3 separate regions of the Homo sapiens genome follow, and regions 1 and 2 are each linked to region 3. The links come from fine-mapping of genetic effects on gene expression. A gene starts in region 3. Each other region holds a variant in brackets. All regions are shown on one strand. Distances are from middle to middle.

Region 1 (10,666 bases), 41 kb after region 3:
GCGGATCACAAGGTCAGGAGTTCGAGACCAGCCTGACCAACATGGTGAAACCCCGTCTCTACTAAAAATATAAAAATTAGCCAGGCATGGTGGTGCATGCCTGTAATCCCAGCTACTCAGGAGGCTAAGGCAGGAGAATCGCTTGAACCGGGGAGGTGGAGGTTGCAGTGAGCCGAGATTGTGCCATTGCACAATTGTCACAGCCTGGGTGACAGAGTGTGACTCCATCTCAAAAAAAAGGAAAAAATGTACAGCAACGTGTGTACATCTATACATACATGTCATTCTTTGAAATTTTATGTGACTCTTAGATTTTACATCTACTTTGATTATTTTCTTTCATTTGCCAGAATTGATGTGTTCTGCAAATGCTGTTCTCAATTTCAGTATTATCCTAATTACAATTACCTTTCTCTTTTTAGCCCCTGGAGGAACGCGCATAGATGATGGTGACAAGACCAAGATGACCAACCACTGTGTGTTTTCAGCAAATGAAGATCATGAAACCATCCGAAACTATGCTCAGGTAGAGCCTGTTTGAGAGACTGAAGCATTTGAAGAGGACTGAGGAAAACTCTATAGAAGCTCTACAGTCCACCCACTTTTTAAATAGGAATCTTAGAAAGCCTTTAAACTTATGAAAATAATGGGCATTAAAACTACAAAAATAGGCCTAGCAGTGTGGCTCGAGCCTATAATCCCAGCGCTTTGGGAGGCCATGGCAGGCGGATCACTTGAGGTCAGGAGTTTGTGACCAGCCTGGCCAACATGGTGAAACCCCATCTCTACTAAAAAATACAAAAATTAGCTGGGTGTGGTGGTGGGTGCCTGTAATCCCAGCTACTTGGGAGGCTGAGGCAGGAGGATCACTTGAACCCAGAAGGCGGAGGTTGCAGTGAGCTGAGATCGTGCCACTGCTCAACCTTGGTGACAGAGTGAGATTCCATCTCAAAACAAAACAAAAAGAACTACAAGAATATAATGCTTTTTTTTTAACCTCTCTTGTGGGAATTTAAATATTTATTCTTGGATCAGGAGAATTCGTTTTTCTTGTATACATGTTAAGGAATATGTAAGTATTAGTGTAAGTTGGAAATAAAATTTATGGGATTTTAATGCAATTTATTTCTTTTTCTTATTGTGTGTTAATTCCCTGCCTGAGTCATTCTTTCTCCATAAAGGGCAACCATATTTTTTACTCTTGGACTCCATCTTGATTACATTAGGAAACGAATACACCAAGAGTTGTAAGTAGGAATATAGCCTGTGTGTAGGAGAAAAAGGAACTAGATTAAGAAATCATTTCCACAGTTATTAAAATAACCAATATTTACAAAATCCTCATTTACATAAAAACATCATTCCACTTAGAAAACTGTCTAGAATCTTACTAATACAGTTGCAAACTTTGCTTCAGAGTTCTAACAGGACTGTAGGGGCCAGTCATCCTTTATTGCCAGTAAATTATAACACGTTTTGCTCATCTGCTAGAAACATGTTTGTTGTCCACCTAGAGTAGAATCTGTCCTGCACTTTGCTCTCCTCCCCATCACATCGTTGTCTAAGTGGTTATATCTTTAACACCTTCATTTCCGTGATTTTTAGTCTCTGCATCTCACAGTTTAAAAATCACATTTATTTTATTTTCGTCGAATTTTTTTTTCTACCTGCTATATTCTTGAATGAATTTGTTTTATCTTACGTGTACATTTTGATCATATTTGTTCCCCTAGGTCATGATAGCATCTTTGAAATGCTTATAGTTCTTATATTACAGTGTGAGCCTGTTTAACTATACACTTTTATTATTATAGATCTATGGTGTCATTATAGTGAGTTTCTATTACCTACTTCTGTGTCTTTTTGGTTGACCTAATATTTAATGGTTGTTTTTTTTTTAGGTCTTCAATAAACTCATCAGGAGATATAAGTATTTGGAGAAGGCATTTGAAGATGAAATGAAAAAGGTAAAAATTCAAATATAATGCCTATCTGTTTTATAGTAATGACATGGGGGTGGATAAAAATTTTATAAGTGGCCGGACACGGTGGCTCACGCCTGTAATCCCAGCACTTTGGGAGGCCGAGACGGGTGGGTCACAAGGTCAGGAGTTTAAGACCAGCCTGGCCAAGATGCTGAAACCCTGTCTCTACTAAAAACACAAAAATTACCCGGGCATGGTGGCATGCACCTGTAATCCCAGCTAACTGGGAGGCTGAGGCAGGAGAATTGCTTGAACCTGGGCAGCAGAGGCTTCAGTAAGCCGAGATCACTCCACTGCACTCCAGCCTGGGCAACAGAGCAAGACTCCATCTCAAAAAATAAAATAAAATAAAATTTTACATGTACAATGATATTGCAGAAGTGCCATATATGTAATAACATGTATGTGAAACACATAGTGAGTTTTTAATACATGTTTGGTAAATAAGTATGAAAGATCATTAGCTAATAGCTATAGGAAGAAATATGTGATTATTCTGGACTTTTTCCATTAATATTTAATGTAAGACAGTGTGCTTTGTTCAGTAAGAATAGTTTTACGGGCTATAACCTCTGACCTTGCAGAGATTAAAATGAAAACTAGATAAAGTGATTTAAGTAGTTAAAGCCTATGGAAGAATGTAGCACAGCAGCTAATGTTCAGCAAAATTCTTTAATTGTATGCAGTTTAGCAAAGGGAATAAAAGCACCTCTTTGGAGATAGAGTATATAGGTGTAATTCTCAATACTCTTTCTCATCAGTGAAATCCACAGTAGCATCTCCTTAAAGATGTCCTCTTTTGAGTAATTGCATGTTCCCTCTTCCAATTTGTAACTCCTGTATTTATATATGGCACCCACTACCTTTACTTGTTTCAGATTTGTTTGTTACTTTGTCATTGCTTCCAATTTTAGATAACTATCTAAAGTAAAAAACCAAGTGAAAAAAGTAACCATAACATATACTTACTTCTTCCCTACTTACTTACTCTCCCCGCTCCTCCCCACCTAACTGCACCCCACCCCACCCAGTTCAAAGTGGTTCTGTGTATAATATTGAAGAGCAATTTGGCAATAGTCATTAAAAGAAATGTTTCTTACATGACCCATGACCCAGCCGTCATGAATTTATAAGAATCCATTAGCATGGATATATAAAGCTATATGTATGAAGATGTCACCACAGTATTGAAAAATAGCCTAAATGTTCATTGGTGGGAGATGAAGACTGTTTAATTAAATTACAATCTATCTATACAGTGGAATACTATGCAGTCTTTTATACTTGTAGGCATAACTACATGTATTAATAAGGGAAAATGCCCATGACAAATTAAGTGGAAATGCGAGGTGCAAAGCAACCATTTGGTAGTAGTTTGACCTGGGGCAAATTACTTAATATCTTTGTACCTTAGTGTTCTTTTCTGTAATTGGAGATGGAGACTGTTGTAGGTATTAATACACATAAAGGGATCAGAAGAGTGTCTGGTCCACTCAACAAGTTTTAGCTATCATTAGCATATAATGCAGTAAAAAACAATATGTGTGTATACATGTAATTATGTTTTAATGTTGATTAATATAATTGAGCAATGTGGTTATTATTTTTATGATGATCTAATTTTTGTACCATTTCTATGTGATTAAGTATATTTTAAATGAATATGGTTATATGTGTGAGCTTAAAGAAGTGGTGTTAAAATTTTATTTTAGAGGCTAATTTTTATTATTCTCGTTTAAATGTTATTTATTTTTATAATGGAGGAAAAGGACAAATTGACATGAACTGTCTATATTTATGTTAGTTCTTTCATTCTTCCCCATTTCTGATGCTCCTTGGAACTTAAGCCTTTCAATCCCTCATTCCCTCACTCCCTGGCACTTACTTAGATGTTAACTTCTTTTTAATTTGTTGAGAATTTAATAGGTATAAATTGAGAGGCAAATGGACTGGTTTGTTTCCAGTTCTGCCACTTTCACATAATGTAAATAGTCTATAATATAATAATCCTTCAATTCTTGGGGAATAGTAAGTTAATATTTTCTTATCCCCTACACAGTTAGTGGAATAATCATGTCATCAGGGTGGAGACACTTAAGTCTCTATCAATGCCAGTGAATTTTGCATTGGCGCAAAATAATGGAAAATCAGCAAGGCCCCTGTGGTGATAGTGGCCCCTGAGGAATTTCCATGGCAAGCCTAATAACTGCTGAAATGGAGAAAGTAACAGTAGAATGTAGTCAAAGCACAAAGCAGAGGAGAGTCAGGAGAGAGAAGGGCATCCCACAGGGCTGACTACTCTTAGAATTTAATACAGGAAGTGGGTTTTTCGTTTTATTTGCTTTGAGCTTACATTCAAATTTTCTAGGGTTGCTACTTTTTTAGTTCCCTGCCTCTGGGGCAAGAGAATCTAAAAGTTTACCAAAAAAACATCAAGAACCTAGAAAACCCCTTTCTCCCTCAACAGTCTTGTTTTGAAGACTGTTGTATTCCGTGAGCTCAGAAAAGTATATATTAAATGTCAAAAGCTTAACTTCGACTCTTTCCTGTTTTTTTTTTTTGTTTGTGTGGGGCTTTTTTTTGTTTCTATGTTTTTGCCGTACAAATTCTATTCAGAGAAAATGGGTACATGTAGCAGGGGAAGAGGTAGTCGCCCAAGGAAGTGGAAAAACTTGAAAAACAATACATTTCAGAAAACATGTCCATCATGTATACTTAACTCTCTTGCATGCACATAGTCAAACATAAATCCATCTGTTTACATATCATCCAAATATCTCTTTTCCTTTCCATGAATGTTATCTACAGCTGTGAGTAAATTAACTGAGAAGAAAGGAACTCTGCCTGCTCAAGTCACTTTCCACAGCATCCAGTTTATCATGAAATGAATTACTATGCTTTGCATATGACCTTCTGTTTGTGTGCCACGTAGCCATGGATGTTCACAGTTTATCTTCCCACTTCAGTCCTTTGCTTCATAGACATGGTTCCTTTTTTTTTCTTTTTCTTTTTCTTTTTTTTTTTTTTTTTTTGACCCACAGCTTCTCCTCTTCCTTAAAGCCTTTTCCGAAACAGAGCAGACAAAGTTGGCGATGCTGTCGGGGATTCTGCTGGGCAATGGCACCCTGCCCGCCACCATCCTCACCAGTCTCTTCACCGACAGCTTAGTCAAAGAAGGTAACGAGGCTCCTGTTTTCTCGCCTGTCAGACAACAAAAGAAAAATAAAGTCACAGATAGTTAGAAAAATGCCAGTGGCTCTTTTTGGTGTCCTCTATTACTCATTCTTCATTTAAGAGAATATCTTTGTATGGGTGTATATTGCCTTTCAAATAATAAAAGGAGTGGACTTGTTAATTGTAGGAAGTTTGAAGGAAAAAATATGCACACCTGTACAAAGACATATTAAGAAAGACT[A/C]ATAGCAAATTAAAATCTCATGGAAGACTTGATGCCTAGGTCAAATACCCCGAAATCGATCTGGTAATCTTTTTGCCCTTCGACACAAAATGGCAGCCTTTAACTTTCACCCCTATTATAAGAACAAAAACTGTTCCCCTCTCAAGGTCTAGAGAAACTGATGCTCAGATATTCATTTTGATTGCACTTTTTAAGATACTCATTGTCTCAGTTTTAGAAAACAATTTTAAGTCTGCTGCATTAGAAGGAGTCTTGTTTTAATTTTAAGGCATTAAGGGTTGGATAGGCATGCATACCATGGTTTGGTTATAGAATAAAATAAAAGTCGGCTGTTTACTTGTAGGAGGATAATGATAGTCAAATTACAATGCAACACAAAACAGTTATTTTTCCTTAAAAATAAATTAAAAGAGCTTTTGTGAGAACATCTGTTTCTTCTGAGAACTTAAAGTTTTCCTCCTACATATATGAAGTCCTAGCTTCATTCATGCCTATAGTGAAAGAAAGGAGTCATAGTTTTCTTGTAGCTAAGGAAAGAATAGTAAATTGAGAGTCAATTGGTCTTATTCAGAGACTCTTCCTAGTTTTTAGCTTAAAATCACTCAGATTTATGACAATTCAGACTCTGTAATTGTTAGATGTTATTAGTATTATGACATTTTAAAGTATTTCCCTGAAGAAAATTCACAATACAACACACATCTTATTTTTGCTATTAGCCATTTTGCACACAGAAAGTCAACATAGAATATAAATGTTAATCATTAATTATTTTAAATTATCCTAGCCAACATAACAGAAAATAATTGCCTTTCTAGTTTTTTTAAAAACCTAAGTGATGTCTGTAACTTCCTTTGTAATATATCCAAAAATTACGTTATTAGGTGGATAGATATCTGATAAAGCAAATACGGCAAAATATTAGTTATAGAAACTAGATGGTGGGCATGTGAATGTTCATTGTTCAATTTGTTCAACTTTTCTGTATGTCTGGAAATTATTGTAGTAAAATGTTTGGGGGGTGGTGAGGAGAAAAATAACTTTGCTATGGAAGTAACATAGTACCTCTGTTATATGGCTTTTCCTTAAACTCTGCCATCTTTTACAAACTAGAGGTTTAAACCCTTGCTTCCTAATTGGAAAAGGATTAAGAAAATGCTGGGTATGGTAACTCATGCCTGTAATCCTAACACTTTGGGAAGCTGAGGTAAAAAAATTGCTTGAGGCCAGGAGTTTGAGACCAGTCTGGGAAACAAAGCAAGACTCTCTTCTCTACAAAAAAAAATTTAAAAACTAGCCAGGTGTGTTGGCACACCTGTACAATCCCAGCTGCTCAGGAGACTAAGGCAAGAGGATTGCTTGAGCCCAGGAGTTTGGGGCTACAGTGAGCTATAATCACATCATCTTACTACAGCCTGGGCAACAGAGAAAGACTATCTAAAATAAAAAAAAAGAAATAAAGAAAATGGTTAAGAAATTAATCATTTTCCCCAGCTCATCCAATAAATGACCAAGGGAGATGGGATTATCCTACTCAGAGGAGTAACTATAAAGAAAGTTAAATCTCAGTTTTAGGCTCCTAGTTTCAAGCGTAGTTTTTCTTTACGATACAGATTACAGCCTAGTGTTAATTTATATTAAATTTTATATTGGTTTTATGAGCTAATGATAATGCTAAAAATTCATCTTAAGTTGTTTAACATGAACTTTCAGTTAAGGTGTAATGCATGTTTTGTTGTTATAGCCGTTTTTGTTTTTTTTTTAACTTAGTTTCTTTGCTTATTCAAGGGAAGAAAATCAGGTTTAGTTGGTGTCTATATGAATGATAGACCAATTAAATGCTTTTACTTTCCAGTTGCTGGAAGACCTGGGTCAAATTGGTATATAAGGACATGGATTTCTTATGTAACAATAAATAGAAAATTAGGACAGACCTCAGGCTGAACAGCAGTATCATTCAGGACTTAAGTATTTTTCTCCTGTTATCATTCATAGCATTAACTTCATCCCAAGGATGGTGCCCCCTCTAGTTGTTATAAGATGCCTGCTGACACAGTTATGGCATATTCTTCCTGGTTCAGGTTCAGTGGAAGAACACTTCTCCTGAACAGAGGATAATTTATCTTTCCTTCAGCTGATTGGCTGACACAGGCTGCATGACTAGTGCAGGTCCAGTAGCAATTGCCAGGGGCGTGCCTTGGGCAGATGAGCTTAAGCGAGGTCACTAAATTAATCATCAGAAAGGGGTGGTACCAGGACTTAGACTAATCAGTAGTCACCTGGACTGGATAAAAGGGGACCTCTTTTAGGAAGGAGGTAAAGAGAATAGAGGCTGCTTAGGCCACATTATCATTAGCTCATAACAATAGTAGAACCTTCAGTTTAGAAAAATCAGTTAAATGTTTCAGTTACATCTTAACTCTTCATTAAATAACCGCAACATAAATTTAGAAATTTGAAGTGTTCATAGAACTGTCTTCTTGTTATCTGATTATTTCTATTTGGAAATAAGTGGTAATGTAAATGTGGACATGTGATTAAATGGTTTCCTGATTTAACATAACTAGCTTAATAATGATTTTTTTTTAAATCCAGAAGAGTTTAACTTGAAACAGCCTTGGTATTTTTATAGCTTAACTCAAGAATATTTTAAAATGCTTTTTATGGCTGCGTGCAATGGCTCATGCCTGCAATCCCAGCAATTTGGGAGGCCAAGGCAGGTGGATCACCTGAGGTCAAGCGTTCAGGACTAGCCTGCCCAACATGGCGAAACCCTGTCTCTACTAAAAATACAAAAATTAGCTGGGTGTGGTGGTGCATGCCTGTAATCCCAGCTACTTGGGAGGCTGAGGCAGGAGAATCACTTGAACCCAGGAGGTGAAGATTGCAGTGAGCCGAGATCGTGCTACTTCACTCCAGCCTGGGCGACAGAGTGAGACTCCATCCCCCCAAAAATAAAAATAAAAATAAATAAATAAAATGCTTTTTATAAAAAGCAAAACTAAGGTAAATGATATGTGTTCATCTATTCGTAGCAATACTTATTGTATCTATCACTATCAGTGTTCTTGTACTGGCATCCTTTATTAGCAAATTACTTGATAAAGGTGACATTACAGTTTTGTGTCTCCTAATTTACTTTCTTGTGCCTCAAGATCACTGTTATAAAGATGAAATACATATGAACCAGAGGGTGAAATAAAGGCAATAACACCAAAGATACTGGGTGTGAAATATGTTTTTGACCAAGGTAAAATAAAATAAACTTGCAGTTAGACCAGGTTGGATTCAAGGAGTCCAAATTTGAAAAATATTTTAATTTATTTTCCTTTTCCTGAAAATGTTCTAGTTTGAGTAATGAGAAGAGGAGAATTTGCCTAGAGGTCTATTGACTTTTCATTTGTACCAAAATTAGTCTTTTAGTTATTTACACATTTCAGGAAACCTGGTTGCTTTGCACACCATCACAATTGGTTTTGCTCGTAAAAGGAATGAAATTCTCTTTTGTTTTTCAACAGGCATTGCGGCCTCATTTGCTGTCAAGCTTTTCAAAGCATGGATGGCAGAAAAAGATGCCAACTCTGTTACCTCGTCTTTGAGAAAAGCCAACTTAGACAAGAGGCTGCTTGTAAGTGTTTTCTGGTTAAAGAGTTGTATGTATGATGCCTTTCTTGGAGCTTAAGCAATGCCTGCAATGTAGTATATGAGTAAGATCCCTGGATCTGTGTTGACTTGGAGCACTGTTCCTTTTATTTCTGTGTAATTGGTAGTAGAAGCTAATTTCATTTTAATCTTTATTTTGTGAACAAATGGCACAATAAAATTAAAGAATTGTGAAGAATATAGACTTCCAAATTTGTAAGTTTGTTGACATAGTATTAACATTTCATCAGAATTAAGACTTTGTTTTATAGCCATAACTTTTTTACTTTTTTTTTTTTTGAGACAGAGTCTGGCTCTGTCACCCAGGCTGGAGTGCAATGGCACAATCTCGCTCACTGCAACCTCTGCCTCCGGAGTTCAAACAATTCTCCTGCCTCAGCCTCCCGAGTAGGTGGGATTACAGGTGCTCTCCACCACACCCAGCTAATTTTTGGATTTTTTTTAATAGAGACGGGGTTTCACCATGTTGGCCAGGTTAGTCTTGAACTCCTGACCTCAAGTAATCCGCCCACCTCAGCCTCCCAAAGTGCTGGGATTATAGGCGTGAGCCACCACACTCAGCCTATAATCATAACTTTCTAGACATTTTAAGGTTTTAATATGATAAAAATTTCATCAATCTCACTTAATCAAATACTTGTGATGTCTGTCTTGAGTAGCAGTCAGACTGTGCTAATCTCAAATGTGTGTTAAATAGTTTGCTAACAAAATAAAAGTTTAAACAAGATTTCCCTGGAAATACTTAAGCTGTTGCAGAAATTAAACAAGTTAATTGTGTCACAATTGCTTGATTATATTTTTATTTCTCCATCTTTGTGTTTTTCTAAGAAAATCCAGAAAAATATTTTGTTCTTGTAATTTCTATCTGCTCCCTACAATTTCTTTCTTCTTGATGCAGCAGCTGTGAAATGCCAAGATTTCTCCAGGTGGAATTGCTTTTACAGTTCTAGGATGAAGTGTAAAAATAAGACACAGCGCTGCCATCTCTTCACCTGGCCTGTTCTCTGTTGTTCTCTTCCAATGTGTTTCAGTGTGCAAGGGTCCAGTCCCATGAGATAATTCTAAGACTATCTCTTTTCCTCAAGAACACATGAAAGTAATTTTAAATGTAAATACTTGCAATTTAAATCACTTAAGAATACTTTGTTTCTTGAAGTTTACCTTAAATAGATTTGTGTGTTTAAAGTTTTTAGATTATGGTAAAAAAGGTACAGAAGTCTAGATTCTAGTTCATAATAATTTTCATTCCTCATGTTTCCTGAATGTCTACCCTGTGCTGGGCATGGTACCACAAGCTGCAGAGCCAGTAGAGAACAGGATAGAAAAGTTGCCTGCCCTCGTGAAACCTACTTTCTAGTGGACTTAGGGCAAATCCCTGTAAACAGAAGCAAAAGTCACAGAAGATAAGTGAATAGGTTGCTGAGGAAGGTGGAGGTTCATATGAAGGGAACATATTTCTTGTCCATGAGGCTGTGGGTTGTCTATAGATTAGCTCTATCTTGGCTAAGCCTGGCTTAGTTCCACATGCCTTTTCATTCGGGCACAGGCTGAGGGAGCAGCTCCCATCTGGGCCATTCTGTCTTCATGGCAAAGTACCAGAACA
Region 2 (10,666 bases), 30 kb after region 3:
GCACAGTTTAAATTGGAGACCCTAATTATATCCTTCTCACTTCAAGGCAGACTTGAACTGCCAAATGGAAATCCAAGGAGGCAATGGCATATTTTCATTCGAATTTTGTTAGTATTTCTGCTAGACTGTCCTCTAATAAAATGCAAACTACATTTACTGTACTTTCAGATGAAAAAGACTCTTTAGTTCCAAAGTTGTCTTGTTTCTCAAGTTTTCATTAGTGTTCTTGCCATTTTCTTATATGGGAATTTTCTAGTCCTTTTGATGGTCACTTTGTTTTAGCAGCTGGGAGCTTTTTTCAGCCTGCAAAACAATTATTAGTCCTTTCGGTCCATCATAAGTTTTTAAGATTTCCAAGCTGTAAGTAATCATTTTGACCTACCACCCTTATTGCTCACTGTTGAAATATCCTTGGCTGTAGTATGCTATCTTCCTTTTTCTGTTTGCTGGTAATTCTTTTGGAATGGGAGGATGAAGATCTTTTTACAAACAAGTTTTTAAGTTGTGTCTTACATTGAAAACAAAGTCCTCTGCATTGATTCTTGGCATAATCTGGGTTTTTCCTCATTTATCCATTTACATTTCCCAATGCCTCCATTTGTAATTTTCAAATCATCAAAATCTGTTCTACCACCTGAATCAACATCCAACCATGTGGTAGGGCCTTTGTGGGAATGACTTTATTTGATTTTGGAAACTGGTCACAAGACTTAATATAACAGCATGTAGTTGTTTTATTTCCACCTTTCTCATATTATAGGAAAGAAAATATCTTTTTTCAACAAGGAAGGAGAATTGCCTGTTGGCTAGACCCTGAGTGGGAGGTGAAGTTTTCTGTGCTTTTCAGTGGGTTCCTTTTGTGTAGAAACCCAGTTATCCCCTCCTCCCACTCCACCTAATGTATTCCTCTAGAATTCCTATGCGTTTTCCTCCCCCTCTACACAACAAGACCCTAATTATATTTTTTCTGCAGTCACCATTTGCATGTTCTTGACTGCATAATGTTTTGCTTACAGCATCAAAAGGACTTTTTATCTCTTGTTCATGATGAATATTGTCCCAGTTAATTTATGTGTGTCTTTATGGTATCTCACGCTGCGTGACTCTGACTGGTACTGGGAATGCCATTCTTCTCTGGTTCTCATGCTTATGTGACTAGTGTTAACCACTTACAACCCAGCCCTTCTGTTAGACCACTTACAAGCAGTACAAACTAGGCAGTTGCTATATGGTTTTAAAATGTAGTTTTTAATTTTATCAAAGTTATGCATGCACATAGTATGGCTAGTTCTTGATTTTTTCTGTTGGAGATAGTAGATATGCCTTTTCTACTATGGAAAATGATGATTCAGCTCTCTTTCATTGCTTGCTTCCCCCCATCCCCATACTTCCTGTCCTTCTCTATTCTTTCATTGTATCATATAGTTTCAGCTACACCAATGTTTAGGGTTTATATTTTTGTGACATTGTACATGCTATTCACAGCTGAACTATGATATGACTGCATTTTTAAAAAATAACGTTATTTTGTTATCTCTTGATTTAATAAATGTAATTATCTCTTGAGTTGGGGGGCCTTAGTTTTCTGTGCCTTAAAACTAGCCCACCCTAACCTTTCCCTTTGTTGTACGAATCTCTTAATACAAAACACTTAAGGAAAAGCTTGAAATGTCCTTTCACCATTATCCACAAGAGTACTATTGCCTGTCTTGTTTTTTCCCTCTTGCCTGGGATCTCATGACTTACTCTTCAGTTATTATCCATTTTTGAGGCCTTGGGTGTTTCAGTATATGTATGTTCGTATTGCTCTTACCCTTGATTAGTAGTTTGGCTGGGCCAGGCACAGTGGCTCATGCCTGTAATCCGAGTACTTTGGGAGGCCAAGGCAGGTGGATCTTTTGAGGCCAAGAGTTTGAGACCAGCCTATGCAACATGGCAAGATCCTGTCTGTACTGAAAATACAAAAGCTAGCTGGGTGTGGTGGCATGTACCTGTAGTCCCAGCTACTTGGGAAGCTGAAGCAGGAAAATCACATGAACCCAGGAGGCAGAGGTTATGGTGAGCCAAGATTGCGCCACTGCCCTCCAGCCTGGGTGACAGAGTGAGACCCTGTTTCAAAAAAAAAAAAAAAAATCGGAACACTAACAAGAATTCTAGGCTGGAAATACTTTTCCATAAGAATTTTGAAGAAATGTCTTCTGTGTCTGGTATTTCTGTTGAGCAATTTAGTTGCTTGATAAGTTTTACATACCACTTGTTTTTTTATCACCCCGGAAACTTCAGATAATTGCTTTGTTCCCAGTATTCTGAAATCTCACAGTAATCAATGTACTTTGTGTGAATCCACTTTCAGTCTTTGTGCTGGGTTCCCAGACAGCCATGTACTTGGAAACAATCTTTCATTTCTGGGAGATTTATTGAGATTTTTCAAAAAATTTCCTTTCCTTTGTTTTCTCATTCTGTCTATTCGATGTATTTTTTTGGATATTTGACAGGTCTGCCCTTTTTCTCTTCTTTTTGCTACTATTTTCTAGGTCTTTGACCTTTTTTCTATTTTCTGAAAGATAATCTTAGGTTTCTCTTAATGCTTCCATTGAGTTTTTTACTTTTCCTATCATATTTTTTATTTCCAAGAACTCTTTATTTATGAAATATTTTTATAGTATTCTCTTCCCTCCATCCCTCCCACTTCTGTTGCAGTATCTTTCACCTTTCTCTCTAGAGAGATCTGTGATACAATTTTTTCTTTTGAAGTTTTGGGTTCATCCTTTGCTCCTCTCTCCTCACATCCAGACTTATTCTCCATGGGTTTGGAAAAAAAGGGTGATGTCCTTTGAGTTGAACTACAGACCCTTTACCTTTAATCCACTCATTCTTTTCCACCAAATCTGACATGTGGTTTGTCATCTTCACTTCTTATCAACAGTATATGATCCCTGCTTTGTTCAAGACCTGGCTCCAAGTCGACCTTCCACAAGGTTTTGCTAGAGTCTAAACCAAAACTCTTTCCAAACCCAAACTTCCAGTCACCACACCAAACTACTTCTGCAGACTCATGTGTCCATTTCACTGTGACAGCTCATTTATGCTTTTCATGTGTGCCTTTGTGATTGCTCTGTGTTTGTCTTATCCACTTTCTTTTTTTTTTTGAAACGGAGTCTCGCTCTGTCACCCAGGCTGGAGTGCAATGGCGCGATCTTGGCTCACTGCAAGCTCCGCCTCCCGGGTTCAAGTGATTCTCCTGCTTCAGCCTCCCGAGTAGCTGGGACTAACAGGGGCCCGCCACCACCCCTGGCTAATTTTTTGTATTTTTAGTAGAGACGGGGTTTCACCACGTTAGCCAGGATGGTCTCAATCTTCTGACCTCGTGATCCGCCCGCCTCGGCCTCCCAAAGTGCTGGGATTACAGGCGTGAGCCACCACGCCCGGCCTTGTCTTATCCACTTTCTAAGGAAAAAAAGCTACATAATATCTATATCCCTGTCAGTCCTCTGAAGCCCCACAAAATCAAAACCATTTTTATAATGATACCAAGATATTCACGTCTTTCACACATTCTCTCATACTTTTACAGTGGAGTTTTCTAGAGTTTAAAGATGTGTGATATTGCAGTAAATTGAATGCAGTGGATATGAAAATTGATCTGTCTGCCATTAAGCCAGGCATTAAAGAGAATTTGCAAGAGTATAAAACAGTACTATCCTTCTCACTAATTTTTTTTTGTTAAATAAATACTATAAAATGTTTTGTTTTAATTTCTTAAAATAAATATCCATAGATTGAACCTCCATAAACAAAAACTCCCTTTGGAATGCTTTGGAGTTAGGATTCCAAAGAGTTTTTGGGTTAGGATCCAAAACTTTGGAATTAGGGTTCCAAAGTTTAGAATCCTAATCCTTTGTAATTAGGATTCCAGAGTCTTTTTCCAAAGGATACTTTGGAATCCTAATTCCAAATGTACATTTTAAGTGTCAAGAGGTCATGAGACCAAAAAGTTTAGCACATCTGTCCTGAAGCTGTAGATATACATATATGGCTCATTACATCTATTAAATATTTAAGTACTCTGCAATAAGTTATTATTATTATTTTTAATTTTTTTGAGACAGCGTTTCACTCTTGTCTCCCAGGCTGGGGTGCAATGGCACTGTCTCTGCTCACCGCAACCTCCACCTCCTGGGTTCAAGTGATTCTCCTGCCTCAGCCTCCCAGTAGCTGGGATTACAGGCACCCACCACCATGCCCAGCTAATTTTTTATATTTTTAATAGAGACGGAGTTTCATTGTTTTGGCGAGGCTGGTCTCGAATTCCTGACCTCTGGTGATCCACCTGCCTTGGCCTCCCAAAGTGCTGGGATTACAGGCGTGAGCCACCGCGCCCGGCCTACAGTAACTTATTTTAAAAGAGACATCCCTTCTTATTCCCCTATGCCATCTTTATTTGTTTGTTTATATTTGTATATTCTCGTACATTCTTTGGCGATGCTCTGTGGATTTTTTTTTCCTATCTTAGATAAAATAGAATTAAAGTTTTGATTGTTATACTCTCAGTATTTATTTATTTATTTGACTGTTATTTTGAATTGTTTTATTTTAGATGAAAAAGAGAAATTCGAACCCACAGTCTTCAGGGATACACTTGTCCAGGGGCTTAATGAGGCTGGTGATGACCTTGAAGCTGTAGCCAAATTTCTGGACTCTACAGGCTCAAGATTAGATTATCGTCGCTATGCAGACACACTCTTCGATATCCTGGTGGCTGGCAGTATGCTTGGTAAACCATGCATTATCGCTTCTTGTAGTATATTTATATATTTTTAATTCTGTTGAAGTATTTCCTTATAAGATAGAGTCTTTATAAGTTTATGTTTATTAGAGTTAATAAAAATACAAATGGAAGCCTATAATTTTACCTGGTTTAGGATTTGGAATGGTATTAATGCAGATGTGAAATGATTATTGGTTAATAGAAGCATAGAATGGAGGACTTTGGTTGACGTTACAACAAAGTTGGCCACTTTGCTTCTCCTAAAAGCC[G/A]CCTTTCTCATATGTCCCTAATCTTTCAGTGTTTTTGGTGGGGCCATAAAAGGGGTAATTTCTGCAAAATACTATAACTTAGTGTATAAATTTCCAAGGTTTAATTAATGCCATTTCATCCATAAATAAAGCATATAAGAAATATAGTTTAAACCTGGTTTTTGAAAAATCATTTAAATTTTAAGTAAGTAGAAAAATTAAAGATAGAAGATTAGAAATTGTTAAAGATAGGTGAAAACAAAATAAAAGCTATACCTTATAGAACAGAGGCATCAGGAAAGTAGGCTTCAAATGCTATTTAAGTTTATTAAGTAGATGATTCTAATATTTATTAAGTATAATAGCCACCCATTTTTCCTCTCATAGTCATTCTTAGATCTGAGTTCTTATCGTTAGTTCCTGTCGTAGCTGTAAATCACTAGAAACGGTCAAATTTCCTAGGCCAGGAATTTTCAGTTTGCAAATGTGTGCAAGTGTTTTAGTTGTTAAAAAGACTTAAGCGGGGAGGGCAGGTATTTGTCTACCTGCTATGCAAAGAACATGCAACATAATGAAAGATTGCCTTGCCCAAAGTGCCATCATTGCCTTTCCTTGAGAAAACACTGCTTAAGCCAGCCTACCTTGGCTTTGAAAAAGAATGTGCATACATTCCTCCATCTTGAGGTGGAACTGCCCGTAAATTCCTTTTTCTCTGAGCTCTTATTTCAAGCAATCTGTTTGGTACATGGCCCCATTGACTACTAGGCCTTCTGTCATTCTGCCTTGCTAGTTTTCACCACATACTGAATTAGTTTTGTTGTTCTTATTGTTTATGAAGAGCTTACATTATGACTGTAAATAATTCAAGTCTAAGTATAACAGCTATCTATATTGAGCTCAAATCCCATTACCCGGGAAAAATCATTGTTAACATTTTGGTTACTTCCCTTCTGGAAATCTCTTTAGCAGCCGGGCGTGGTGGCTCACGCCTGTAATCCCAACACTTTGGGAGGCTGAGGCGGGCGGATCACCTGAGGTCAGGAGTTCGAGACCAGCTTGGCCAACATGGTGAAACCCCGTGTCTATAAAAAAATACAAAATTTAACAGGATGTGGTGGCGGCTGCCTGTAATCCCAGCTACTAGAGATGCTGAGGCAGGAGAATCACTTGAACCTAGAAGGCAGAGGTTACAGTGAGCTGAGATCGAGCCTCTGCACCCCAACCTGGGTGACAGAGCGAGATTCTCTCTCGAAAAGAAAAAAGAAATCTCTTTACCTCATAAAATTTTGAGACTGGGTGACATTATGCAAATACGATATTCTGCATGCTGATTTGTATTTATTCAGCAATATGTTGCTGCCTTGCACACCCATCAGTGTTATACTGGATGATTCTAAAAAGAATTAAAGCCAAACGGATGTTAAAGAATATTTAGGGGCTGGGCACGGTGGCTCACACCTGTAATCCCAGCACTTTGGGAAGCCAAGGCAGGCAGATCACCTGAGATCGGGAGTTCGAGACCAGCCTGACCAACGTGGAGAAACCCTGTCTCTACTAAAAATACCAAATTAGCTGGGCATAGTGGTGGGTGCCTGTAATCCCAGCTACTCAGGGGGCTGAGGCAGGAGAATCTCTTGAATCCAGGAAGTGGAGGTTGCAGTGAGCCGAGATCACACCATTGCGATCTTCAAAAGGAACATTATATTTAATATTTTATCAAAAATTATGAGTTCCTATTTACATACACCTTTAACAATGTTAGCTACCTAATTTCATCAGTTCTCTAGATCTCTGTCAATTAGGTAAGGGATGAGTATTTTCATTTTAAAACTTTAATAGTGGAGTTGAATATTTCCTAATATATTATTGACTTCTAGTATTTCGTTAATTATGATATATTTTTATCAGAGTGATCTTCAGCGAGTTTTGGTTCTTGCCAAAGTCACATGACTGTAGTAGTCACTTATATGGACCCTTTTCAGACTGAGTGACCTCTAGGCAGCACTGTTGGCCCTTTTGTCATTCTTGAACTCTTTTATTTTCTTCCCTTACACGAGACCACTTAGACCTCCTTCTACCTCTCTGCATGCCACTTCTTACATTACTCCTGGCTTCCATCGTTAACCACCTCCCCATATAAAATTATCTGTATAATTTGTGTTGAGTTTCTTAAAGTTTCCTTTACCATGATCAGCAGATTTATCTCTGTAGCCCAGATTTCTTTTTTTTTTTTTTTTTGGCAGTTGCAAGATTTAATGGAGTGAAAACAGAGCTCCCATACAAAGGGAGGGGACCCAAAGAGGGTAGCCATTGCTGGCTTGAATGCCTGGGTTTATATCCCAGTCATTATCCTTCCCACTGTGCTCTCAGGCAATAGATGATTGGCTATTTCTTTGCCTCCTGTTTTTGCCTAATTAGCATTTTAGTGAGCTCTCTTTACTACCTGATTGGTCGGGTGTGAGCTAAGTTGCAAACCCCATGTTTAAAGGTGGATGTGGTCACCTTCCCAGCTAGGCTTAGGGATTCTTAGTCACCCTAGGAAATCCAGCTAGTCCTGTCTCTTAGTACCCCCTCTCAACAGGAAAACCTAAGTGCTGTTGGCGAGGTTGGCCAACGACCGCTCTAACTTCTTCCTGCTGAATTGAGGTGTAGTAGGGGTTGTGTAGTTGAGATTTCCTCGGGAGGGGTGCCTTCAATGTCATTAACATTGGAGCATGGGCTAGCAGGCCGGTCCAGGGGTCCACGGTAGATCTTATTCATGGACTGCATCTGGGGCTCCATTTGAAGAACATTTTTAGTTTTACAGCTTCGATTCTGGAAGAGACAAACTTAACAAGGAGGTTAAAGATACAGGGATTGAAATGTATGGCCTGCAGTGCAGGGGATTATTTCTTTGGCACACTTCACAGGCCCTGACTATCTGCTTGATAGTTTTGAAAAGGCCTGGTCCAGTAAATAATAATTTGGGCGTCTGGGTGCTATCAATGCCTAAGTGAAAGGTTTGGTGAAGGGTTTTAAGTAATTTCCATTGGTTAGTGCAGCCCAGATTTCACTTCTTCACTGCATGTCTATACATTCAAGAAGAACATAGGGCCAAACGTTTTGGTATAAGCTATGCAACACCAGATGTCTACTGAGTCCGGACATGTGACGTAAGGACTGAAGCCAGCTAGGTGCATTCTTCTTACATAAATGCTTTGTTTAATTATTATGTAGAAATTTTCCTGACACTCACAATTTACCTTCTTCCATTGTTCTTTTTTTTTTTTTTTTTTTTTTTTTAATGCTGTCGCCCAGGCTGGAGTGTTGGCTCACTGCAACTTCCGCCTCCTGGAATCAGGCAATTATCTCGAGTAGCCGGGATTACAGGCGTGTGCCGGCACACCCAGCTAATTTTGTAATTTTAGTAGGGATGGGGTTTCCACCATGTTGGCTAGGCTGGTCTCGAACTCCTGACCTCAGGTGATCTGTCCCAAAGTGCTGGGATTACAAGCATGGGCCACCACGCCCGGCCCCATTGTTCTTAAAATAGCAGCTATCTTGGTCTTTCAATATTACCCTTCGTATAGTAAATACAATAAATGTATTAAGTTCACTTCTACCTTGAGAAAAACAGCAGTCACTCCAAAAACGTTAGAAATGGCAAACAATACTTTGTCCTAATATCAGCAAAAATTTTAATGCAAGATGTAGCAATATTATTAATATGTAATAAGTGTTTTCTTTCATTAAACAATGTAACTTTAAAAAACATACCTCTCAAAAGTCTGTAGTTTCAATATCAAACTTTTCAGTTTTATAATTTCTATCAAAAGCAATAGCAATAATTAGCCCAGAGTTTTTAGAAGATCATTATCTAAGTTTGTTCCATATCAGGGGAACCAGCCCCCAATATTTCAACGTGGGTTCTTTTCTGTTTTCCCTAAGTGTTGGCCGGTGTGAGAAATAGAGAAAGAGTACAAAAGTAAGAAATTTTACAGCTGGGTCTCGGGGGGTGACATCACGTGTCGGCCTGAGCTGCAAAACCAGCAAGTTTTTATTAGCGATTTCCAAAGGGGAGACAGTGTACGAATAGAGTGTGGGTCACAGAGATCACATGCTTCAAAGGCAATAAAATATCACAAGGCAGATGGGGGCAGAGCAAGATCACAAGGCCAGGGCGAAATTAGAATTACTGATGAAGGTCCATGTCCCGCTGGGCACACACTGTCATTGATAAATATCTTAACAGGAAACAGGGTTTGAGAGCAGACACAACTGGTCTGACTAGAATTTTGCCAGGCTGGAATTTCCCAATCCTAACAAGCCTGGGGGTGCTGCAGGAGACCAGGGTGTATTTCATCCCTTATCTTCAACTGCGTAAGTATTGATTGGGGAAGTGATAAATGTCCATGAAATCTTCACAATTTATGTTCAGAGATTGCAGTAAAGACAGGCTTAAGAAATTATAAAAGTATTAATTTGGGGAACTAACAAATGTCCATGAAATCTTCACAATTTATGTTCTTCTGCCGTGGCTTCAGCCGGTCCCTCCGTTCAGGTTCCCTGACTTCCCGCAACAGTTCCAGGTGGTTATATTCATTTAAAAGGGCTAATTAAATCTCATGCATAAATTAATTGAGTGAAAATAGACTCTTGAAGGGGCTGACTTCTCCAAAAACTAATTTACTTACTAAACTGTATGCTGAAGTCTGAAGCCCATAGAGGGGATGATAAGCTAAGGAAAGTATAACTTGATTGAATTCTCATTTGCCTATGCCTGCTAAGAAAGGTGGCTATGGGTGGCCCTTTTAATCCAGAGATCTGAAATCACAAGTTAAATCAAGGTGATTATACACTAATACTCAAACAAATAAAGGGAGTGGCTAATGAGTAGAGAGTGTTTGTCTTTTCAGCTTTGACTATTATTGTATCCTTGGTGCCTAGCACAGTAGCTGGTATAAGTATATACACTAGAAACATTTGTTGTGTATATGAAAGATATTAATCTAACTACCCAAACCTTCTACCTTAATTACAACGAAGTAAAATTAGAAAATAAAAATTCCTAATGTTCTCATTCTGCTCTTCTAATCAACTAATGCTTCTAATGGCTACCATTGAAACTTACAGGAGGACCCTTTGAATATGGAAAGTTATTGAAGAAAAAGGCATCTAATCTATTGAGTCCATGGGGAAAAAAAGATGAGAGAGAATAAAATAATTTCTTCTAGCCAACATAGCAGCTGGGCGATCAAATTCAAATAGCAAGCATCGGAGTCCATGCTATTCAACCAGTCATGGGTAACTGGGTTAGCAAAGGAGGGAGCAATTGTAATAGCTACCCAAGTAGAAGGCAAAAAGATTCTATGAGTCAGATCTGGTCAGTTCTGTAGTTGGTGATCTAGGTAGAGTATCTGCAAAATACTTGCAAAATGTTAGCAAGCCTGAAGAAAGAACTATGTCCTGGAGTGGGAAGTGTTTGGAGTTGCATTGAGAATATTTACTGAATATTACTGAATATTTACTGAAAAATTTACTGAATAAATGTTGTTCTTTGCTTCCATGATTAAGAATATACTTTGGAAAGAACCAGACTTATAGTGACAGGATGTAGTGAAGGCAAGGATGTGGAACAAAAATGAAGTACACTATGGTGGGAGTATGAATG
Region 3 (10,666 bases):
TTGGCCAGGCATGGTGGCTCACACCTGTAATCACAGCACTTTGGGAGGCCAAGGCGGATGGATCACCTGAGGTCAGGAGTTTGAGACCAGCCTGGCCAACATGGTGAAACCCCATCTCTACTAAAAAAAAAAATACAAAAATTAGCCAGGTGTAGTGGTGCGTGCTCGTAGTCCTAGCTACTCAGGAGGTTGAGACAGGAGAATTGCTTGAACCCAGGAGGAGGAGGTTGCAGTGAGTCAAGATCGCGCCACTGCACTCCAGCTTGGGCGACAAGAGCGAGACTCTGTCTCAAAAAAATAAGTAAATAAATAAATAAAAGTAAATAAAAAGACCTGTAAAACTCTCAGTTTCCTTATCTATGAAATAAGGATAACAATATCCATCCCACAGTTATCTGAGGAGTGTCCTAATGTGGAGCACATATAAGCCTTTATTAGATCTTCTTTTTATTTTGTATTCAGAGCAGCACAATATAATTCATTGTAACATTTCTAATATCTAGATCGGGAACACGGGTCTCTACCAAAGACAAGAAGATGCAGCCAAAACAAACAGAACAGGAGAAACAAACATTCTGTTTTCAGCAATTCATCACACAACCATGAGATTCAAACACGTATAGATTTCAATCGTTATTCATTATTATTGTTTTAATTTTTTATAGATACAGGGCCTTCCTCCATCGCCCAAGCTGGAGTGCAGTGGCATGATCATGGCTCACTGCAGCCTTGAATTCCTGGGTTCAAGCAATCCTCCTGCCTCAGACTCTTGAGGTGCTAGGACTACAGGTGCACGCCACCGCACCCAGCTAATTTTTACATTTTTTGTAACAACGGGGTCTCACTATATTGAGACCCAGGCTGGTGGCAAACTCCTGGGTCCAAGTGATCCTCTTGGATCCTCCCAAAGTGCAGAGGGGTCACTCTACAGGCATGAGCCACTATGTCCAGCTGGATTGCAATCATTATTTATTGGAAGCCACGAAAACGGATATTTTAAGGAATATATAATCAAGTTAAGGATTTAGAAATCTATTTGGCTTTGTTAGTTGTTATAGTGTTTACGTATAAGTAAAATCATGTAAAAATGTTTAAAGTGCCTTAATTTTAAAACAAGAACATATGGATATAGATTTTGATATAATCATAGATATAAAGCTATAAATATATTTTAAAAGTGAAACCCCATCTCTACTAAAAAGACAAAAATTAGCCGGGCGCGGTGGTGCACGCCTGTAATCCCAGCTACTCAGTAGGCTGAGGCAGGAGAATTGCTTGAACTTGGGAGGCAGAGGTTGCAGTGAGCCGAGAGCGCACCATTGCATTCCAGCCTGGGTGACAGGGTGAGACCCTGTCTCACACACAGACACACACACACACACACATAGTGGAGACTTCTAATTATAACATGCATTTTGAAATCGTGAATTTGTGCGATGTTTCTAAAAGGTCTCCTACTCATATCTATTTTTAGACTTTGTAAAAAAATGATCTTAAATTAGTATTACAGAGCACTGTATAAAATTGGGAGTATCTAAAAGAGCTGTTGCTGTGAAAATGAAGACAATGAAGCCCATATAGGTTGCATAACCTGTCCAGCCATCCAACTAATGGTAACCATATATTTTAATTTTTTCTTTGAACTCTGTACTATAATTGGTTATAAGCAGACTTGAATGTTTCTCAACCATAAAGACACCAGAAGTATTATTAACGACACAGGACCTTAGAACAGGATCTTATTTCAATAGTCCCAAATTGGAAACAACAATTGGGCATCAATGGGAATGGATGCACAAATAGTAGTATATCCTTCCACTGGAAATAAAAGAAGAAAATAAGCTACATACTATTGGTACACATAATAAATATGAACCCCAAAATCATAATGTTGAATGAAAGAAGCCAGCCCCCCCTCAAAAAAAGGATACTTATTGTATGATTCTACTAATATAAAATTCTAGAATAGAGAAATCTAATCAACAGAGGCAGAGATCTGTTAGTGGTTGCCTGCAGATGGGGGTGAAGTTAGTGACAGATCACAAAGAGGCATAAGGACTTTTTAGGGGGTGATGAAGATGTTCATTATGTTGATCTTACTGATGGTTTCACAGATGTATGTTTAAATCAAAACTGATTAAAAAGTGTGTACTACCTGTAATATGTGCAATTTATTGTATCTCAATAGTTGGTAAGAAAAAGCCTTATTATCCAAACTTGTTTCATAGCTCCTTTACACAGATATGAAAAAAAAAAAGGAAGTATAATACTTTCTTGTTAGCAACAGTAAGCCCAGGAATTTCAGGTACTAAATAAGAGAAGTAATGTGAAAATTATCTAGCTCATAGCCTTAAAAAAGGTTTAATTTATTTCATAATAGTGCTTGCTCTGAGATTAATGAAAAAGGTATCAAAGCTTAGAAGAATGGGTAACTCTACAAGTCATATAAGCCAGTTAAACACAGTTCAGTGATTTCAATTTCCTCTTACATACTGTTAAATGAATGCTGTCATTAACTATGATTTAAATGGGTATGTTGGAAACAGATTTTCATTTTCATCTGGAACTTCTTGGCATTCTAATAAATAAAAAGCCCCACTTAGAGTCTGTCTTTCTGGAGAGCAGTGGCTGGCAGATGGGAATCACTTAAATATTTGCCGAGTTTATTTCAGATTGACCAAGATGCCAGGCTAGACTTTGCTGAAAAGTTGTTAGTTCAAAGTACTAGAACTTATTGTCTCATCTAGAGTTTTTCAAAGTTGAAAAACGTATGAAAGAAAAAAAAAAAAACTCACTTCACCCACTTTAAAAAAAATGCCTCTTTTTGGCACAAATATAAACTTTGCTTATGGCCTTTCTTCAACTATAAAATAAAAATTTACTTTAAATTTAATGCACACAGAACTACAAAATCAGTAACATTTAAAACTGAGTTAACTTGACAGATGTTGTTTTGCTAGAACTAAATGACCTCTCAAAGTGAATATTGTATGGACTGCTATGGTACTGTTTCATGTTTTGTTTAGTTTGTTTTTAGGTACAGCCTGTTTATTACCTATGGGCCCTGTGATACCTCTGCTCTGCCACTTTCTGCCACTTACCTGTTTGACACTAAGTTTCCTAACTTCCCAGTTCCTCAGTTGCCTTGCCTATAAAGTGAAGATTACTATATTTATCACAAACACAAGCAGTATTTCGAATGCTTTAACTATACTAACTACTTTCATCCCCATAACAACGTTGTGAGGTGGGTATTATTATTATTCCTATTTTTCACACAGAGGACTTGAGGCTCAGGAAAAGTCACTTGCCCAAAGGCCACATCACCAGTAAATGAGTTAGAATTTCAAACCAGACCTGCATGGTTAACCACTATCCCATGCTGTCTCTCATACTGTCATAGCTTAAAATTAATTCCTAGCTCATCCAAATTAAATGCATTAATATATGTAAAGTACTTAAAATTATGTGTGGCTTGCAATAACAGTCAATAAACGTTGGCTATGGTTGTTTTTCTCATATCTCCCATTACTTTTCTTTATGAGTGCAAGTGATGTCCCACAGACCTTCATTTGACAAGAATGCATCACATACTAGGTCCACATCAGTTCTTTTCTCATTGGCATGGTCCAATGAAAGCGATGAAAGCATCAGTGCACTCATGCAACTTGATGCACCGTGTGAGCCCAGAAATATCACAGCACTAACCAGAATAAATGCACATTAATTCAGGTTTATATAATCTTCAAAATAAATACTGATGGACACCTGAGAATGTATCCAAGGAATCCCTTCTCCCCTCTCAAAGACTCAATTTATAAAACTGCTCACTATTTTTCACTTTTAAGAGATCACATGATGGGCCAGGCCCAGTGGCTCATGCCTGTAATCCCAGCACTTAGGGAGGCCGAGGCAGGAGGATCACTTGAGCCCAGGAGTTCGAGAGCAGCCTGGGCAACATAGGGAGACCCCCACCACCCCATCTCTACAAAAAAAAAAAAAAAATCTTTCTAAAGTAGCCGGGCATGGTGGCTCGCACCTGTAGTCCCAGCCACTAGGGAGGTGGAGGCTGCAGAGAGCTGCAACTCCAGCCTGGGTGAAGAGTGAGATCCTGTCTCAAACAAACGAGAGAGAGAGAGAAAGAGACAGCGAGAGCGAGAGAGAGAGAGGACATGTACTAGCTCTGTCCTGCCTAAAAGAATTTTTGTCCCTGGTGGATTGTGAATTGATCCTTTGTCTCCTTTTTGCCCAGCACAGTACCTGGCACACAGCTAGAACTTGCATGTTTGCTTAATTGAATCCCAGAGCCATCAAAGGCAGGGAGAAATTACCTAGAGACAGGAAGAACTGAAAGACTGAAATGCCAAATAGGTCAGCAAGAACCATGCAGTACAACAATCTAAACTCTAACCCAAATCCCCAAATTCCAGGCAAAGAACACATCATTGATAGATATAGCTGTGACTGACTTAGAATAGTTGAGATCAGATCGGGTGGGCTCAGCTCATCAGCACCTGTTGAGTTCAAACCGGAATTTTTTCTCCTTCGCATGTGGAGTTTCCTTGTCGCTATGAAGAATAAATCTGCCTTATTCTCTAGGATTCCACATTTCAGCCTGGCTACTAAGTAAATAAAACTGGAAACTGGGAAGCCTTATGCTGCAATGACTGGCATCTCTGCCATTCGAGGACAAACATGGCTATATTATTATTGAGTTTAAAATCACCACATTAATTGCCCGGAGTCGCACGCATCACCATCCCTGCACCGTGAGGGTGCAGAAGAAGCATGCAGTCACGCTGATGTCACCTGCCAGGTAACGGGACTCGGCAGGGAACTCCTCTGGGACGTCCACTCGGGGACTCCGGGGAAATATGGCTTCTGGCTCGTCCTCGGGGCTCCCCGCTGGGACTCAGCACTGCGGAAGTGGGGCACGCCTTGGGGGAGTGGACAAGAAAGCGCGAAGGAGCGCGATTAGAAGGTCTCATCTGTGCAACGTGGGCCGAGGGGTGGGTGTGGAGGCCTCGCCAATTTCCTTGTCTCTCTAGGGTTCCTGAGGCTGTCGGGGCTTCTGGAAGCCAGGGAGGCCCTGGATACGGAAGTCTCAATGCAGCAAATTACAGACCTAGTTCTGTACCCTTATGAAGAACCCCTCTCCCTAAGGGCGCCCTCCACTCCCAAGCGGGGGCGGGGATCGGCAAAGGATCCAGATCATTCGGCCTGCGGAAGTCTAAAGGGTCATTTAGACACCCGCCTAAGAACCTGAAACTACCAGGACTGACCGCGGTCAAAATCCCTCGGGAGCAGTGAAGAATTCACACACTGGGGTCCACACCCCGGGAAGCTCGCATTAACCTAAGGCGGGGCGTGGAAATCCGTACGTTTCCAAAAGCGGATTTAGAGGCCGAGCCTCTGTAACTACCCCTCTTGTCCCAGCACTGCTTCTGCCTCCCCACCTCTCCGCCCCTGCAACCTTTCCCAGACCAAAGGGAGAAACGCTCTTTCCCGGTTCCAGGCTGCAAACCTTGCAGAACCGCAGCCAAAGGTCACCCAGGCCAGGAGCGCCCCCCGGGCTCCGCCACGCCCCCCGGCCAGGCTGGCCGCGGCCGCGTCGCAGCCCAGCACCCGTACCTTTCCCGATGACTTCCAGTAGCTCCTTCTCCTCCTGGGTCAGCTCGCCTTTCTTTATGTGAACCATTGCTCCCGCCAGCTTGAAGGTTATTCCCTTTCTTAGGGAGTATTAAAAAAGAAACGATGCGTCTGTATTGGGAACGCCAGCCGCAATGAGGCAACTTGAGACCAAGACACTGAGTAGCCAACCGCGGAAACGCTTCGCTTCTCTCCTCCCTCCCGCGGGCTGGCGGACAGCGGGCGAGCTCGGGCGAGCCAGGCGGACGGTCTCCGCAGGCCCTGCGGCGGTCACCGCCTGCCGCCTGTCATTGGCCCTGCCGAGGAGGAGGAGCCGCAGGAGGCGGTAGCGAGAGATCGCCATTGGAGCAACCTGGGAGGACAAAACCAAATGCAGAAAGCTGGAGGGGGGAATTAAATTCCTCCTACACGTTCCGCTCCCCTATCCTGTCCGGTTCAAATATTTCGCCACATGTAATATTGAAAATTCTACAGCTGGCAGTTATGTGCTCAGCGACGGCTTTCTGGGGCATGCAGAGGCCCCAGGTTGTCGCCGTACCCCCACCATTCCCCCGGGAGTGGCGCAGTCTGGGCGGGGGCGGTCTAGGAGACGGGGGCGGTACGGGAGGCGGGGCTGCGCCGGGTTCCGTGTGTCTATGTCAATGTGTCTGTCCTTCACTCCTCCATTGTCTGCCGCCACTGCTGCTGCTGCTGCTGCTGCCGCTGCTGCTGCACGAATCGCCGCAGCCCCCAGCCTTGCGCGTCGTCGCTACCTCCTCGGACAGGTGAGAAGCAGCCCAGGTGAGGCAAGGGGCGCCGTGAGGGTTGCGAGAGTAGCGACTGCCGCCCCGCCGGGGTTTCCATCGGGCAGGAGCTGGCGGGGAGGAAGCATGTGCCTCCTGGGGCGGCTTCCTGCCTCGCGGTGGAGAAGCCCCCGCTCCACCTCATCATCACGGCGCGTACGGGGTATCAGTGCCCTGGGATGAAGACCTCCGACTCGCAACGTTTGGCCGCCTCGGGAGACCCTGGGACCGCGGGCGGGCGGGCGGGGGCCAGCCACGCGGTGGGAAGTGGCGGGTGCACATGGTCTCGTGCGTGGCACCGCCAGATGCGGCTCCCGGGGAGGCTGGGGCCGGGGCTCTGGGCTAGGTAGGGGTCGCAAGGACAGCGCCCCATTACTAGCGAGTCAGTGAGAACAGACTCGGGAGAAGGTAGTTTTTACGCTGGTGATCCTCGCCCTCCCCACTACTTGTCATCTCTTTGGCCTCTGTGGAAGCTGTAGAAGAAAACCTGATCGCCCAATGTTGCTTGTTAAAGATGTTTGGAAACAATTTACACTTGCACTAATACTTCGTTTATGAGAGACAGCCTGTGGGAGGGGGAAGGAAGGGCTTCTTTGCTCTGCTAGAGTTCTCGGTTCTCTTTGTAACTCAGATCTTGAGATTTATGGAAATAGGGAGTGGAGGGTGGGGAGGTTGGAGAGGGCGGAGATTAAATTGGTGTTGCTGCCTATATATAGCCTTAGATTAGCCTCTTAATCCAACCTTCATTCAACTGTAATATGTAGCCTGGAGCTTCGACCATAGGTAGATGGGGGTAAATACAAGTGTGTATTTCAGAATAAGATTTGCTTGCTAAAATGCGGGAATCAGTCATTTCTCCAGGGTGCAGATTTATATTTACATCATCAATGAAAGTTTCTTTGGAAATTAGTGTTTATGTTTTACTGTTGTTTCCCTACAGAGTAGTATTGATGTTTCTCTCAATATGTGTGTCAAAGAGACGTGTATGTGTCAAAGAGAAATATTTGAGTAATTATGTAGGTGGTTTTTGTTAAGCATCCCCAGGACCACTGTTTCTTCTCATAGCGCCATACGAAAAGCGAAATGCATTTTCCTCTGGCCTTAGGCATTTATTTTGCGTGAAGCTTTCACTAACATCTGAAATCTCCTGGAATATGTTTATCATTATTTCCTGCCTTTAGCAAAAATCTTTCCTAAACTCCAGCTGTTTTTCCCCCCTAAAGCTTCAGCATTAAAGACTGGGACAGATCTGAGCCAGAACATCTTACATGAAAATGGTTTGAAATTATTCATCTCAGTGTATAACAAAGATACTTTTGTTGGATGATGCTTTAATAATGATGTGGCTGTTCAAGCAAGTAGTAAGGCTCCTGAGAGTGACCAATCTTTTGTAATGCTGTTAGTTCAGAGTTACAATTGATTTATAACATAGTATCATGCGGAAGAAACCCACAAACCTAAAAAAACAGTTGAGTGGTAACCTCCTGGAACATGTGATTTAGCATCTTACCAGCAGATGCATACACATAATTGGGTACTTCATTGCTAGTATTTCCATCTCTTGTGCCAAATCTGGGCCATGGTTACTTGAAGGTCACACCTGTTTGTCTCACTGGGGTTGTCAGTTCCTCGAGGATAGCAGCTTACTATCTATTTTCTTGATGCCTTATGACACTTGGTTGGTATTTAGTGCTCTCTGAATACATGACCAGTGAATTTAGAGACAATAACGTTGAAAGAGAATCTAACATCTACCTAGAAATGCAAATAAATCATGTTCAGTTTACATTTCTAGAAACAGATTCATAATGGGTACTGTTCATTAGATGGATTGATTACATTAGTAGTTTTGTATGGTGTAAATATTTAATGTAGGGATAAGATTAGATAATGAGCATATTAAAACAGATTCACATCAAAGAAGTTTTATTGATAATAAGATAGCTACTTCATATTGAGTATTTAGTCTGTGCTAGATATTCTACCAGATGCTTTGCATAGAATTATTCTAGTGTTATGACAACCCAGGAATGAGCCAATATTATACCCACTTTGCAAATAAGAGGACAGAAAGTAAGGGAAATAATTTGCCCACAATCCCATATTAGGAAGTGTCAAGTCAGAATTGGAATAATGATTTCTGAAATGTTTGAAATGTTGTATGTGTCCTCTCATATCTACCACTCTAGAGCTATTGCAATGCATCTTAAGTAGCCTGCTTCTCTCTCACCTGTCTCCATCTAGCTAATTCAGGGAACTACCAGTTCAATAAACATTGAGCACCCATCATTCTTTGAATGGCTCTCTGCTGGCCACAGAATAGAGGGCTGGGTCTGGCCTGGAAGGTTCCAATCCATCCATGGTCTCAGCAGGCATTTCCAGTCATCTGGGCCCTCCCACACACTGGGCTCTAAGGTCACCACTCTGCTTGTTCCCCAACCTGCCGGTAATTTCCACCCCTTTGTTCCTGCTTTTCTCCTCCTCTGAATGATTTCCCTTCCCTTTTCACTGAATCTCCTCTCCAGATCTGATGAACTATTCAACTTTCCAGACACAATTTAAACAAAACCTCTTTTCTTCAGCTTTTGTGTTCATCTCTCCCTCTCTATCCAGTAAGGGAAATATACATGCTAGTAAATACATTTATTCATGTCTCTTGGCAAGGGTTATAAGTAAAATCTTTGTACATGGAGGATATTGATATGCAACATGGCTACTGGTATCATTGCTGGCAGCCTTTAATTCTCTCTTCTTATGGATTCTAGCGACCCCTCTTTTACCGCCCCCCTAAATTGACATCATTGCTTCTTCATCTGAATCTCCATGAAAATACCTAAAACAAGCACTTTCTCATCGCATTCTATTATAGTTATTATTAATCTGTTTGGTCCCTTCTCATTCTACAGTATACATTAACTAGGTCAAATTTATCTTTGTTTCTCAGGTTTAACCCAGTGTCTTGCACCTAGTGTATGCTCAGTACAAGCTGAGTTGAATTCAGTTTGATTTCTAAGTTATTTTAGGTGGATTTGTTTTCCTACTTGACTAATCCTTCCTGGCAATGTGAGGTGAGGTGGCACTAAGCACGCACAATCATAACCAGAGGCAGAAAGTCTTTAAATGTTTTGGATCTCAAGCTTCTTGACATTCTGATGAATGCTATCAACCAAGAAAAATTGTTCTTGTGCACATGTTACAAATTTGGCATGCCATTCTTAGATTTCCCCATTAAAGACCCTGATTTCCAGCTCTCTACATTAGGAGAATGCTGCCTTTTTGTTGCATTTTTGAGTATTACATCTTTCAGGGTACTGTTTGTCTTGACATTTGACTTTTTTTCCTTAGACTTAGGTATCTTTATTGACTGGATATTTGATAATAAGAAATTTTGATTTTTTTAAGTTGGAAGTAGATTACGGTTATATTTTTAAAAGATTACTTATCTTTTAGAGATAGGAACAGAATTATTTCAGAACTGGATGAGAAGACAGCTGAGATTTGCTTTAATATAATTCTGTGACAGAAAGGAAGAGAGACTGAATGAGAATATAAATGAGATAAAATTGACTATGTTAACAGTTGAAGATGGGTGATGAGTATATTCACTTGATTATACTGTTCTCTCTACTTTTGGATATATTTGAGATTTTCCATAATGAAGTTTTTAAAAAGAAAATTTGGAAGTATTACAGCCTCTAAGAAATCTTTTTTTTTTAAACACAACATAAGAAAGTAATATAAATACAAATGTTCTTTTTTCTATACTTGGAGTTTCGCTTATGTGATTATTCATTTAAGTGTTAAAACAGTTACACCTAAATCTGCAAAGAACTGTCTTGTGAACAATGCGTTTCCATAAACATTTGACATCACATTTTAACTTCTCCAAAAAGTAAAAGGTTGGTGGCATTACTCAGTGCTTGTAGAACAAATTGATGAATATCTTACTGGTAGTTAATCTTCATCTTTTTTGAAAAGAAAATTCTGAAGAAGGGGTACAGATACATTTAGTTTAACTGAGAAAATCAAGAGGTGAATGAAGTGGAGATACTGATGTTCTTCTGTGCGTCATAATCCAACTCAGAAGGCATTCCAAAAAAAAAGAGTACCAAAACTGTTTCGAGCAATGTCAGCACTGATAGGATAAGTATTAGTCTAGGAAAATCAGGAGCAGGCCCAGGACAGGGTGTGACTGGTAGGTTCTTACTCAGTGTTTGCTTAGCTGAATACTTAAT

Evidence for each region.
Region 1: its variant is fine-mapped to the expression of BZW2 in whole blood (TOPMed, PIP above 0.99). The same link has a PIP of 0.9 or more in nasal epithelium.
Region 2: its variant is fine-mapped to the expression of BZW2 in whole blood (INTERVAL, PIP above 0.99).

The regions. Positions count from the first base shown.
Region 1 is chr7:16,680,879-16,691,544 of GRCh38, forward strand. BZW2 (basic leucine zipper and W2 domains 2) reads left to right here. Exons shown (of 12, transcript NM_014038.3): 4 at 423-526; 5 at 1,902-1,967; 6 at 5,027-5,162; 7 at 8,919-9,028. Among named protein-coding and RNA genes, the nearest start is that of BZW2, 40 kb to the left of the region's middle. The variant A/C (reference allele first, on the strand shown) is at 5,401.
Region 2 is chr7:16,669,815-16,680,480 of GRCh38, forward strand. BZW2 (basic leucine zipper and W2 domains 2) reads left to right here. Exons shown (of 12, transcript NM_014038.3): 3 at 4,598-4,774. Among named protein-coding and RNA genes, the nearest start is that of BZW2, 29 kb to the left of the region's middle. The variant G/A (reference allele first, on the strand shown) is at 5,038.
Region 3 is chr7:16,639,876-16,650,541 of GRCh38, forward strand. It overlaps BZW2 (basic leucine zipper and W2 domains 2), which reads left to right and starts at 6,306. Exons shown (of 12, transcript NM_014038.3): 1 at 6,306-6,413. It overlaps ANKMY2 (ankyrin repeat and MYND domain containing 2), which reads right to left and starts at 5,879. Exons shown (of 10, transcript NM_020319.3): 1 at 5,632-5,879. The coding sequence starts at 5,698. RefSeq lists enhancers at 6,006-6,285, 8,480-8,991.